Linked DNA regions of Homo sapiens: region 2 is linked to region 1. The links come from fine-mapping of genetic effects on plasma protein levels. Region 1 holds a variant in brackets. A gene starts in the other region. All regions are shown on their forward strands.

What was found. PIP is the chance, under the fine-mapping model, that this variant and not a neighbour inherited with it causes the effect. The UK Biobank Pharma Proteomics Project read protein levels with antibody pairs (Olink). The fine-mapping took linkage between variants from a reference panel, not from the people measured, so its PIPs are less certain.
Region 2: it holds the start of BCHE, and the variant in region 1 is fine-mapped to the plasma level of the BCHE protein (UK Biobank, PIP 0.96).

What each region holds. Positions count from the first base shown.
Region 1 is chr2:216,527,347-216,532,737 of GRCh38, forward strand. It overlaps LOC101928156 (a long non-coding RNA gene), which reads left to right. Exons shown (of 3, transcript XR_923872.3): 3 at 1,924-2,237. Among named protein-coding and RNA genes, the nearest start is that of RPL37A, 31 kb to the left of the region's middle. The variant T/C (reference allele first, on the strand shown) is at 2,497.
Region 2 is chr3:165,835,116-165,840,506 of GRCh38, forward strand. It overlaps BCHE (butyrylcholinesterase), which reads right to left and starts at 2,308. Exons shown (of 4, transcript NM_000055.4): 1 at 2,199-2,308. RefSeq lists an enhancer at 2,126-2,420.

The sequences.
Region 1 (5,391 bases):
GAGCTGGGACTATAGGATAGGTATGCGCCACCACACCTGGCTAATTTTTTCTCTTTTTTTTAGAGACAGGGTTTCACCACATTGCCCAGGCTGGTCTTGAACTCCTGGGTTCAAGCAAACCAATCCGCCTGCCTCAGCCTCCCAAAGTGCTGGTATTACAGGTGTAGCCACTGTACTCGGCCACAGTTTTCATTGTATGCATCTACCAGAATTTATTTAAACCAGACATTCTATTAATGAATATTTAGGTTTGTTCCTATTATTTTGTTGCACAGTGGGCAGATCTTATGTAAATGTATTCCTAAAGGCTGAGGAAGCTGACAGACCAAAGAGGCTGATAAATCCAGTGTCTCACATTTAATAGGGATTTATGAACAGAAACCATCATCTCAGCAGGAGATAGTAGATCCTGGGCCATTACCCCCCAGACCCAGGGCTTCTATACCCTAGAGAAGGAATGTGTAGGATAATTGAAGTTGGCCCCTTAGGGAAAGGCAAGAATGCTATGTGAATCTGCCTAAGGGCAGGATTTATGGTCAAGGTTGTTTTGATCTAAGTGCAGAATTTATGGTAAGTACATGCTCTTACACAAGGAACAGTAGATAAAATAGAAATCTTAGAGGTATTCCCGGAACTGGGATTAATCAGAAGTCAACATGGTGGATTAGCATGTAAGATGGAGTTGCTTTAACCTGCACATCTTTGCTATTACAAATAGTGCTATTATATATATATAAAATATGATTTATATATGATATATATATAAAAGTGTGAATAATCTTGCTGTTTTCTTTTATGATTTAATTTTTCAGTCTATAAGATTGAACATATGTCATTTTGTTTATACATGTGTTATAGATTGAGTATTTGTGTTCCCCCATCAAATACGCTGAAGCCTTAACTCCCAGTATGACTCTATTGGGAGATAGGGCCCGTGAGGAGGTAATAAAGGTTAAATGAGGGCATAATGGTGAGGCCCTGACCCATTAGGCCTGGTACCCTTATAAGAAAAGCAAGAGACATCAGAGATCTTTCTCTGCCATGTGAGGACACAGTGAGAAAGTGGCTGTCTGTAAGCCAGGAAGACATCCTTTACCAGGAACCAAATCAGCCAGCACCTTCATCTTGAACTTCCTGGCATCCAGAACTATAAGGAATAAATTTATGTTGTTTAAGTCACCCAGTCTTTGGTATTTTGTTATGGCAGCCTGAGCTTACTAGTACAGTAAGCATATCTGAAGGCTAAAATTGCCAGAAATAGAAACATGTAATCACTAGGTCAAGAGGTGAGTGCATTTACAAATTTGATAGGTGTTGCCGAATTACTGAATGAAAGGGATACCCACTTTAATTCCCTTCAGCAGTATACAGTAGTGCATGTTTACCCACAGCTTCACCATCAAGTTGTTTTCAAACTTAGTTTTTTCCCCTAAACTGAAAGGTGAAAGTGATTATTTTATATTCTTAACCTAGTTTATTTACCAAGGAAATAACTCTATTACTATTGTAAATTGAATGCTAGCATATTTTCACATATAGAATGTAACTGTCAGAATAAAAACAAAAAATACTATTAAATTTGTGCTGAATGTTGTTGCCTATAGAAAGGTCTGAGTCTGAGATGTGTTCTTTCTTGTTAAAAAGAGAAATCAGGAAGTTTAAAGGGATGTTAATGACAGGTTGAAACTGAGGCTTCTTGTTGATGTAATCCAACAGTGGAAATCAGTCTGACTGTGGTCCCACACTCTCTTACCTTCTGCCATCCCGCCCAATCTGCTGTTGTGTAGCTGAGGCTATGTTGTGTTAGATAAGCCAAGGGAGCCATCAGCTAGGTGGTTCTACATGCATAACTGCAAAACCAGCCCAATCTGGTTCAACTTTGTGTTATAAAATGGTTACATTTCAGTTACCTCCATGTTGCAGGTAACCTAAGCAAACCCAAATGGACCAAATGCAACGCTGATGGAATCTAAGTGCTCAGACCAAGGAACGGGGACTGAAATAACAGTGGACACCACATGGCATGATCCAATCAGATTGAGCCCTGGAAAGATCATCCCATGGCAAGATCCAGTTAGATTACACTTCCTGGCATCACCTCATTGCAAGATCCAAGATCATGCCTCATTACCTTCTGCCTGTAAAACCTGCCCCAGCCCCCAGCTCCAGGAGACAGATTTGAGCCAGGCTCCTGTCTTTCTCTGCAGCCTTGCAATAAACTTTTCTTTCTACAAAAACCCAGTGCTTTGGTGTTTGGATTTTTTTTTTTTTTTTTAAATACAGGGTCTTGCTCTGTAACCTAGGCAGTGGCACGATCACGGCTCACTGTAGTCTTGAACTCTGGGGCTCAAGCAATCCTCCTGCCTCAGCCTCCCAAGTAGCTGGGACTACAGGTGCATGCCACTGGGCCTGGCTAATTTTAAAAAATTCTTTTGGGAAGACAGAGTCTCACTATGTTGCCCAGGCTGGTCTTGAACTCCACCTTGGTCAGTTCTC[T/C]CACCTTGGCCTGCCAAAGTGCTGGGATTACAGGCGTGAGCTACCACGCCCAGCCATGTTTGGCTTTTCATTGCATGCAGTCAAACAGACCCAGTTCAGTTTGGTAACACACATAGCTGTCTGGATGGGCACAAGGAAGGCTTGATCCTGCTTACAGGCTCACTGGGTAAAAGTGAGCAGGTCCCTGAGGCTCACCACATGTTGGCCTTGTCCCAGTAAGGAGAAAAGTGCCTGCCTCTTGCACTTTCCCAGGGAGGAAGGTTCTGGAGCAGGAGTTTTACCCTAGTTTCTGACCAAGTGCCTGCTAATGGTAGTTTCCTAAGTCACATTTTTTAGACTTTTTAAAATTTAGTAGACTTTATTTTTTAGAATAGTTTTAGATTTAAGGAAAATTTGAGCAGATAGCACAGAGAGTTCCCATGTGCCCTCCATATATACATAATGTTCTGTATTATTAACATTTTACATTTGTGTGCTCTATTTGTTATAATCAATGAACCAATATTGATACATTATTATGTACTAAAGTCGATAGTTTCTACCTGATGTCTATTTCTATTTGAGGATCTCATCCAGGGTACCACAGTACATTGACTTGTGGTGCCTCCTCAGATTCCTCTTGGCTGTGACAGTTTCTCAGACTTTTCTTGGTTTTAATGATCTTGACAGTTTTGAGTAGCACTGGCTGGGTATTTTGTAGGAAGCCCCTTTATGGGAATTAGTCTGATGTTTTGTTTCATGATTAGCCTGGGGTTTTGGGTTTTTGGGAAGAGGACCTCAGGTAAAGTGCCATTCTAATGACATCATATCAAAGGCACATGTTACCAACATGATTTATCACTTTTACGTTGACCTTGATCACCTGGTTCAGCAGTGTTTATCTGGTTTCTCCACTGTTAAGGTACTCTTTCCCCACTTTCCTACTCTTTAGAAGGAAGTCACTCTGCCCAGCCCACATGTAAGGAATGGAGAGTTATGTTCCCTCTTCTGGAGGGTACAATATCTACATCAATTATTTAGGATTCTCCTATAGGATTTTTTTTTCTCTTTCCATTTATTCAGTTACTTATATCAGTATGGATATTTATTTTACATTATTTTTGGGTTACAAATCAACACTACTTCATTTTATTGCTTAATTTTTTCCAGCTTTGTTCATTGGTAGCTCTTTCAGTTGGCTCCTGCATCCCTTTGACATATCCCCATTATGGTACGATTTTTTTTTTTTTGAGGCAGAGTCTCGCTCTGTCGCCCAGGCTGGAGTGCAGTGGCTCGATCTTGGCTCACTGCAAGCTCCGCCTCCTGGGTTCATGCCATTCTCCTGCCTCAGCCTCCGGAATAGCTGGGACTACAGGCGCCTGCCACCACGCCTGGCTAATTTTTTGTGTTTTTAGTAGAGAAGGGGTTTCACCGTGTTAGCCAGGATGGTCTCGATCTCCTGACATCATGATCCGCCCGCCTCGGTCTCCCAAAGTGTTGGGATTATAGGCGTGAGCCACAGCGCCCGGCCCATTTTGTTTTGTTTTTTAAGACAGCATACATCTGTTGCCCAGGCTGAAATGCAGTGGCACAATCATAGCTCACTGCAACCTCAAACTCCTGTGCTCAAGTGAACCCTCCTTCCTCAGCCTCCTGAGTAGCTGGGACTACAGGCATGCACCACCGCACCTGGCTAATTAAAAAAAAATTGGGGGCCGGGCATGGTGGCTTATGCCTGTAATCCCAGCACTTTGGGAGGCCAAAGAAGATGGATCGCTTGAGACCAGGAATTTGAGACCAGCCTGGGCAACATGACAAAACCTTGTCTCTACCCAAAATACAAAAAAATTAGCCGGGCGTGGTGGCACATCCCTATAGTACCAGCTACTTGGGAGGCTGAGGTGGGAAGATTGCTTGAGCTTAGGAGGCAGATGTTGCAGTGAGCTGAGATTGAGTCACTGCCCTCCAGCCTGGGTAACAGAGTGAGACCCTGTCTCAAAAACAAAAACAAAGAAAAGAAAAAGAAAAAAGAAAATTGCAGGGGGAGAATTATACATAATTTAGTGTGGTCTTGCTATGTTGCCCAGCAGATCTTGAACTCCTGGGCTCAAGTGGTCTTCCCACCTTGGCCTCCCAAAGTGCTGGGATTACAGGCATGTGCCACCGTGCCCAGCTGTATTGTAGGTTTTTTAAAAAATTCGTTGTTGATCACTTCTTTATTTTCTGGTATTTCAAGATATTCCAAACTCATTTTGTATATTTCTTGCTACAGTCCTACTAGAATCAGACATTTCTTCAAAGAACGCTAGTTCTTTTTATATTGGACAGTGTTACTAGAAACCAAGATCTGGATGCTAAGTGTACTTATAGCTACTGGGATGTTAAGTCACATTTTTAATTTGCTGAAAGCATTTAAGATTGCCTATATTTCTAGTCTCTCCTTAATTCCCTGATAATTCCTATTAAAACTAACTGGTCGCCTCACAGTTTCCCCAAAAGCCTTTGGGGTTTTACTCTTTTTGTTTGTTTGTTTTTTAAGATTTGTCCTCACTTTGTTTAAATCCTTCCTGTCCTTCAAGCTTTAGGCCTCCTTCTGCCACCACCTCCCACCCTACCACCCAGTTTCCTTTTTGACATTGCTGCCTCTTATCTCCTGCTTCAGGAGGCTCCAGCAATGCAAATGCAACAGAAGCCTGATTTATTCTTGGAAACAGTTCCATGAAAACCAAGCAGGAAGGAATTTAGAAAGGAATATAGCAGCTATATAATATCTTTTGCCTCTATTTTTTTAAAATTTAGTTTTGTGGTTTGAACCCAGATAGCCAGACTATCAGTTTTATTAGGGCTTTTTTTTTTTTTTTTTTTTTTGTCTTTCCAAGATTCAGATGGAAGCACCTGGATTGAGTTTTGTGACTC
Region 2 (5,391 bases), not on the chromosome of region 1:
GAATTAAGAAAATTTACTGGCAATTTTTGAAAATGCTAAACTGTTATAACAATAACTTTCAAATAAAAAAGGTGACAAATCTTTTTTTGTATTTTTAATTCAATTTTGAAAGTACTATTAATATTCCCTAGCTGATTTTAACAAAAAATACTAAATGTTATACTATAAGATGTGAGTGTGATAAAATAATTTGTATAAAGAGCTATTTTTTGGGATACTTGAATATCAACCAGATTTTCAAAATAAGGGACAAGCCAAGAATTTTTAAAAGATGTTCAAGCAAATATTCAAAATATTTTCCCTGTGTATAATTTCCCTATCTTTTAAAAAGTTACAATTAAATAAATATTTATTTCTACTTGGAAATAAACCCTCTTAAAATGGTAGAGAAAGAGCCATCTAGATAATATTAATATGATCTAGAACAAGCTCTCTTAAATGTATTTGAAGAAATTGGAACAACGACGTCTTTATATCAAACTTAAAAAGCTTGTTTTGTTGCAGACTAAGTGAAGTGGGGAATTGAGGAAGTCTGATTATAAATAGACTACATCACTGTCTTTCAGGGATTCTTCAGCTATGCTTTAGGCATGTATACATATAGAAGACACTACATTAGATATAAGAAACTTAAGATGTTTTATCTGTCCTCAATTAGGAAGAACATTTGCAAACTTCATTGTGTGAATAATTTGAACATTTATTAGAGAGATTTCTTGAGTCTTCTCTGAAAATTAAATCTCCTCTTAGGTTGCTATCTATTCAATTACAATTCTCTTAACATCTGGGACCGTCTAATTTTGGTAAGAATGAGCAGATGCTGGCAAGAAACCATCGAAATGAAGATAATATTCAATGTAAATATATATTATACTTATCAAGAAATGACTCGAAGAAGGAACCAAATTTATAGATAAGATGTGACTTGTTTAGCTATTAGTAGCTTATGTTTTATAAAAATGAAATATGGAATACATCCCAAACATATTTTTACAATTAAAAAACTAGGACAATACAAACAAACAACAACAACAAAAAATTAGGAGAACAAAACAGAACTTTGATAACCCAATTAGAAATTTATTTGGCATCCAAAAGACTACTTTATTTTATATCCAGAGAAAATTCTGAAGATTTTTATTCAAATGTTAAAGTCACACTTTAAAAGCTCACGCTTATCCTTAAACAAAGTAACTACTTATATAAGTAAACTGTCATTGTATTTATTGTAACTATGAGATAGTTTATATTAAGGAAGGCATTACACAGACTAGTGACAGGAGCTCCTAATTGAGTTTATTATCATGAAATATATTCATAAAAATGTAGAAGACATACTCATAAAATAAAAATATATAATAAATAGAAATCATAAACAATGAAATCACATTTCAGTTTACTTTTAGTCATTCATAGATTTTATAATCCTTAATATTTAATTCCCTGGTTAAAGTGGAACTGATGTTATCAAAATAATAGTTTTACAAGATTATAGGATGAGCAGAAAGTACATTTGCTTACTATTTCTATAATAGTAAAATAATAGCAAATGTAAAATATTTTGCTACAATTTAAACAAACATATAAAAAGTGAACACAAAGGGCAAAGGGGACACGCTCATAAATCACTGTAAATCAAATTAGAAAACAGGTTTTGTTTTTATTTACATAAAATAAACAGACCTCTCATTTGCCAGTTGTTACTGTTAAAGTTTTAGGTGACAAAATGTTGATTGAGAAAAGTATTTTGTTCAGGAAAAAGTAAGTTAACTACTAACTTTATCCCATTTAAAAAGAAAAAAAAAGGAAGACTAATCAAAGATTACTTTTACAGAGAGATTCAATAAACAATGCATTTAAGGGTAAGCCAGTATGAAATGTTTTTTCTTAGGAAACTCACTAAGAATATATATCACAGTGATTCCACACGTGCTATGGTCCTTTATACAGAGTTGAATAAATTCATTATTTTCTCAGCAGTTAAATAAACAAAGTCTGCGTTCCCTGAATAATAGGAAGATTTGATGCATGTGCCTGCTGGCTCACTTCCTCTGTCCCATTTGCAAGCTTCAGTAACTGTTCCCCACAGAGCACCAAAGGGACACAACAAACACATGAAGAGATCACTCTCATCCCACAGAATGAGCTTTACAGTAACTTGGATCTCTACACGAAGGTGTAAATTCAGAGCAACTTACCCGATTCTCTGCAACAAAGATGGCAAAGTTTGCAAGGAGTGAAAATCATGTAATACTTCGGGGAAATGCAGGATGCAGCTGCTGCTCCAGCCTGTAAATTGGACTGCACTGACATTCAGTGTTACTGAATGTAACAATCAACTGTTACTGACAAAGCTCGCGAGAGTTGGCAGCAGCAACTTGAAATCTGTTCAGAGGCTAATGGTATAAATGCAATAGTGATTCATTTACAGAAGTATTACAGGATTCATGCTTTACAATTGCAGGTAGTCTTCTAAGAATGAAGAAAAAAAGCATAGAAGATTCTTTAACTAAAATAATCTGAAATGTAACAGAAAATGCATGTTTCTTTTAACTCTAAACTTTAAAAAAATTTTCCTTTTTTTAAGAATATACATATTTCCTATGCTTGTCTTAAGATTTAAAGACGTATACATCATTCTAAAGTAGTGCTATTATTGAAATCCATTATAGCTTCAATCTGTGCTAATTATATAGTTAGAGAAGATAGTAATATAGAAAATAAGAAACACAATGCTCTAGATATAAGCTATGCAAATCAAAAACTTAGTTCTATTAACTGAATGGATGTCTCTGATATGTATCTCCTTTCAACCCCCACACTTCAACACTTATTTAAGTCATACAAATTTCAGCATTGGTAATTTCCTATTCAGAAGACCCTGCAGGCAGTCATACATGATGAGAAGCCACAATTTTCTGGTCAAGACAGGAAAAATAAAATGAATAACCTTCACCAAACTCTATAAAAGAGACACATTTGTCAACTTGCAGTGCACATGCTCTGGAGAATATATTTATGTCTTTGGCGCTTATCTTTCTTGAAATGATGTTCAGGAAAATAATTTTTTAAAAAACCTTTGATAAACTCCTTAATCCCTATCTTCTCAATGCAATATATTCTTAATCTTCTGTAAGTGATAGCTTTCACTTTTGAATCTCTTACTTGTGGGCTTTCTATGGACTAAACAGAAGGCATGTATTAATATTTGCAGGTGAGCACTTTTTTGCCTTTTAATAGAGTGTTAAATTTTCAAACAAGCAAATATAATTAGCATTTGTTGTAATTCTACCTTATGCCAGTCATTATAATTGACAATTTATATTAAATATTTTATATTATTTCAGCAAATATGAGAGTTAATATTATTAACCACCTCATCAGATGAGAAAGCTAAGGTTTCTACAAATCAGAAGCTTACTATATTTCTTACCACTAGTAGCTGTTGGAAAACAGAATTTTAATCTGTATTATTCTGTTATTTTATGTCAACTGCTTCCAAGAGAATAACCATTTTGGTCTTTTAAAATTATCTTTTCTGTGAAAATTGCTACTTAGGCAGTGTTAATTCAATGATAAATATCATGATCACAATAATTTATAATGTATTTAGAATATAGTTTATGTAATAACAAGTTAGTTACACAAAAGGTACAGAATACATAATCTATCTGAAAAGGAGAAAAAGGAGGTGGAGCACAGTGGTTCATGACTGTAATCCCAACATTTTAGGAGGCCTAAGTGGGCGGATTGCTTCAGTCTGGGAGTTCAAGACAAGTCTGGACAACATAGCAAAACTCAATTTCTGCAAGAAAATGGGTCAGACATGGTGGTGCAAGCCTACATTCCCAGTTACTTGGGAGGTAGCTGAGGTAAGAGTATCACCTGAGCCTAGGAGGTCGAGGCTGCAAGCCACGATTGTGCCACTGCACTTCATCGTGGGTGACAGAGTGAGATCCTGTCTCAAAAAAAAATTAATCAATAAATCAATAAAAGCAGGAAAAGGCTTTTTAAATGGAAGTATATTGACAAATTTGCAATGGTTTTTATAGTGATGGCATTTCTGTTTAAAATATAGTAAATCTGATGTTCCACATGAGAGTTCATGGGTTCAATATACATGATTTTTAAAAATCCAAATGTCAAAATTCTTCTCTCCAACCCAAGTCCACTGCATTGTTTCCTGTGCTAGCATAAGGTCAGCCTATCAAACGCGGCAATTATTAAGGAATATTTTGTGACGTTAGTGAATTCAGCAAAGCATTTTACATGCTTCCTGCATCTACTCACTGCTAGGTAAAATATGTCACATATATACACATATTTCATTTTCATCTTTAAACAGGAAGCCAAACAATAAAATAATTGGTTTCAAGCAGATCTTTATCTTTAACGCATGTTTAAACTGGCTAACTAGCAACATCAACTGATTACACAAGTTGGCAATTTTTCTTCTTCTCAATGTCTTTACTTCAAAGAACCACCTTCTGTTACTGTCCCTGTAGTTCTTTTCCTCGCATGATTTCACAGCTATGCCACATTAGTTCATTCATTATTTTAGTGCACCTCTAAAGCATTTATTCTTCCTGTCTTGAGAGTTTCTTCCTTGTGGCTCAACTTACAGCAGCTGCTTTGCTTCTGTGGTGTCATCATTTTCTCACACTCATCCAGCGGAAGGATGTAGGTCACACACAGTGAGCTTGTTTCAGGGTTAGTAGGGAAGCACTATTCCATTACATCACAGCATGGATGGTTAATGATCCTGCTGTTAAATGTTGAGTATGCCTTGTAAGCGACACTGATGAAATACCACAAGACACTTGACACGGCATTAACACTGCGCACATTTTGCAACCATATATGCTGAAGCTTGGGCAGGACAATCATTATGGTTTTGGCTCTATGATCACTTTCAGTTAGCCAGTCACAGTGGTTTTTTGCTTTTAAGGTCCCATTGTAACTCAGTTACCACTGTTTTCTAGATAGCAGCATTCAGTAAGATTTGAGATGGTGTGAAAAACATTAATCCTGTATTATACATTAGTTTTCCTTAGGCATACTGATGCCAAAAAAGTGCTCTAAACTTATATTAATTTTATTCATTTTTTTTACAATAGCACTGCATTCTCTGAAATGAATATGGATAACAAAGAAAAGTATATATAAGTATAGATAGATAGATAGATAGATAGATAGATAGATAGATAGATAGATAGATAGATTTTTTTTTTTTTTTCCTGAGATGGAGTCTCACTCTGTCGCCCAGGCTGGAGTGCAGTGGCAGGATCTCGGCTCACTGCAACCTCTGCCTCCTGGGTTCAAGCAATTTTCCTGCCTCAGCCTCCTGAGTAGCTGGGATTACAGGCACCCACCACCAAATCTGGCTAATTT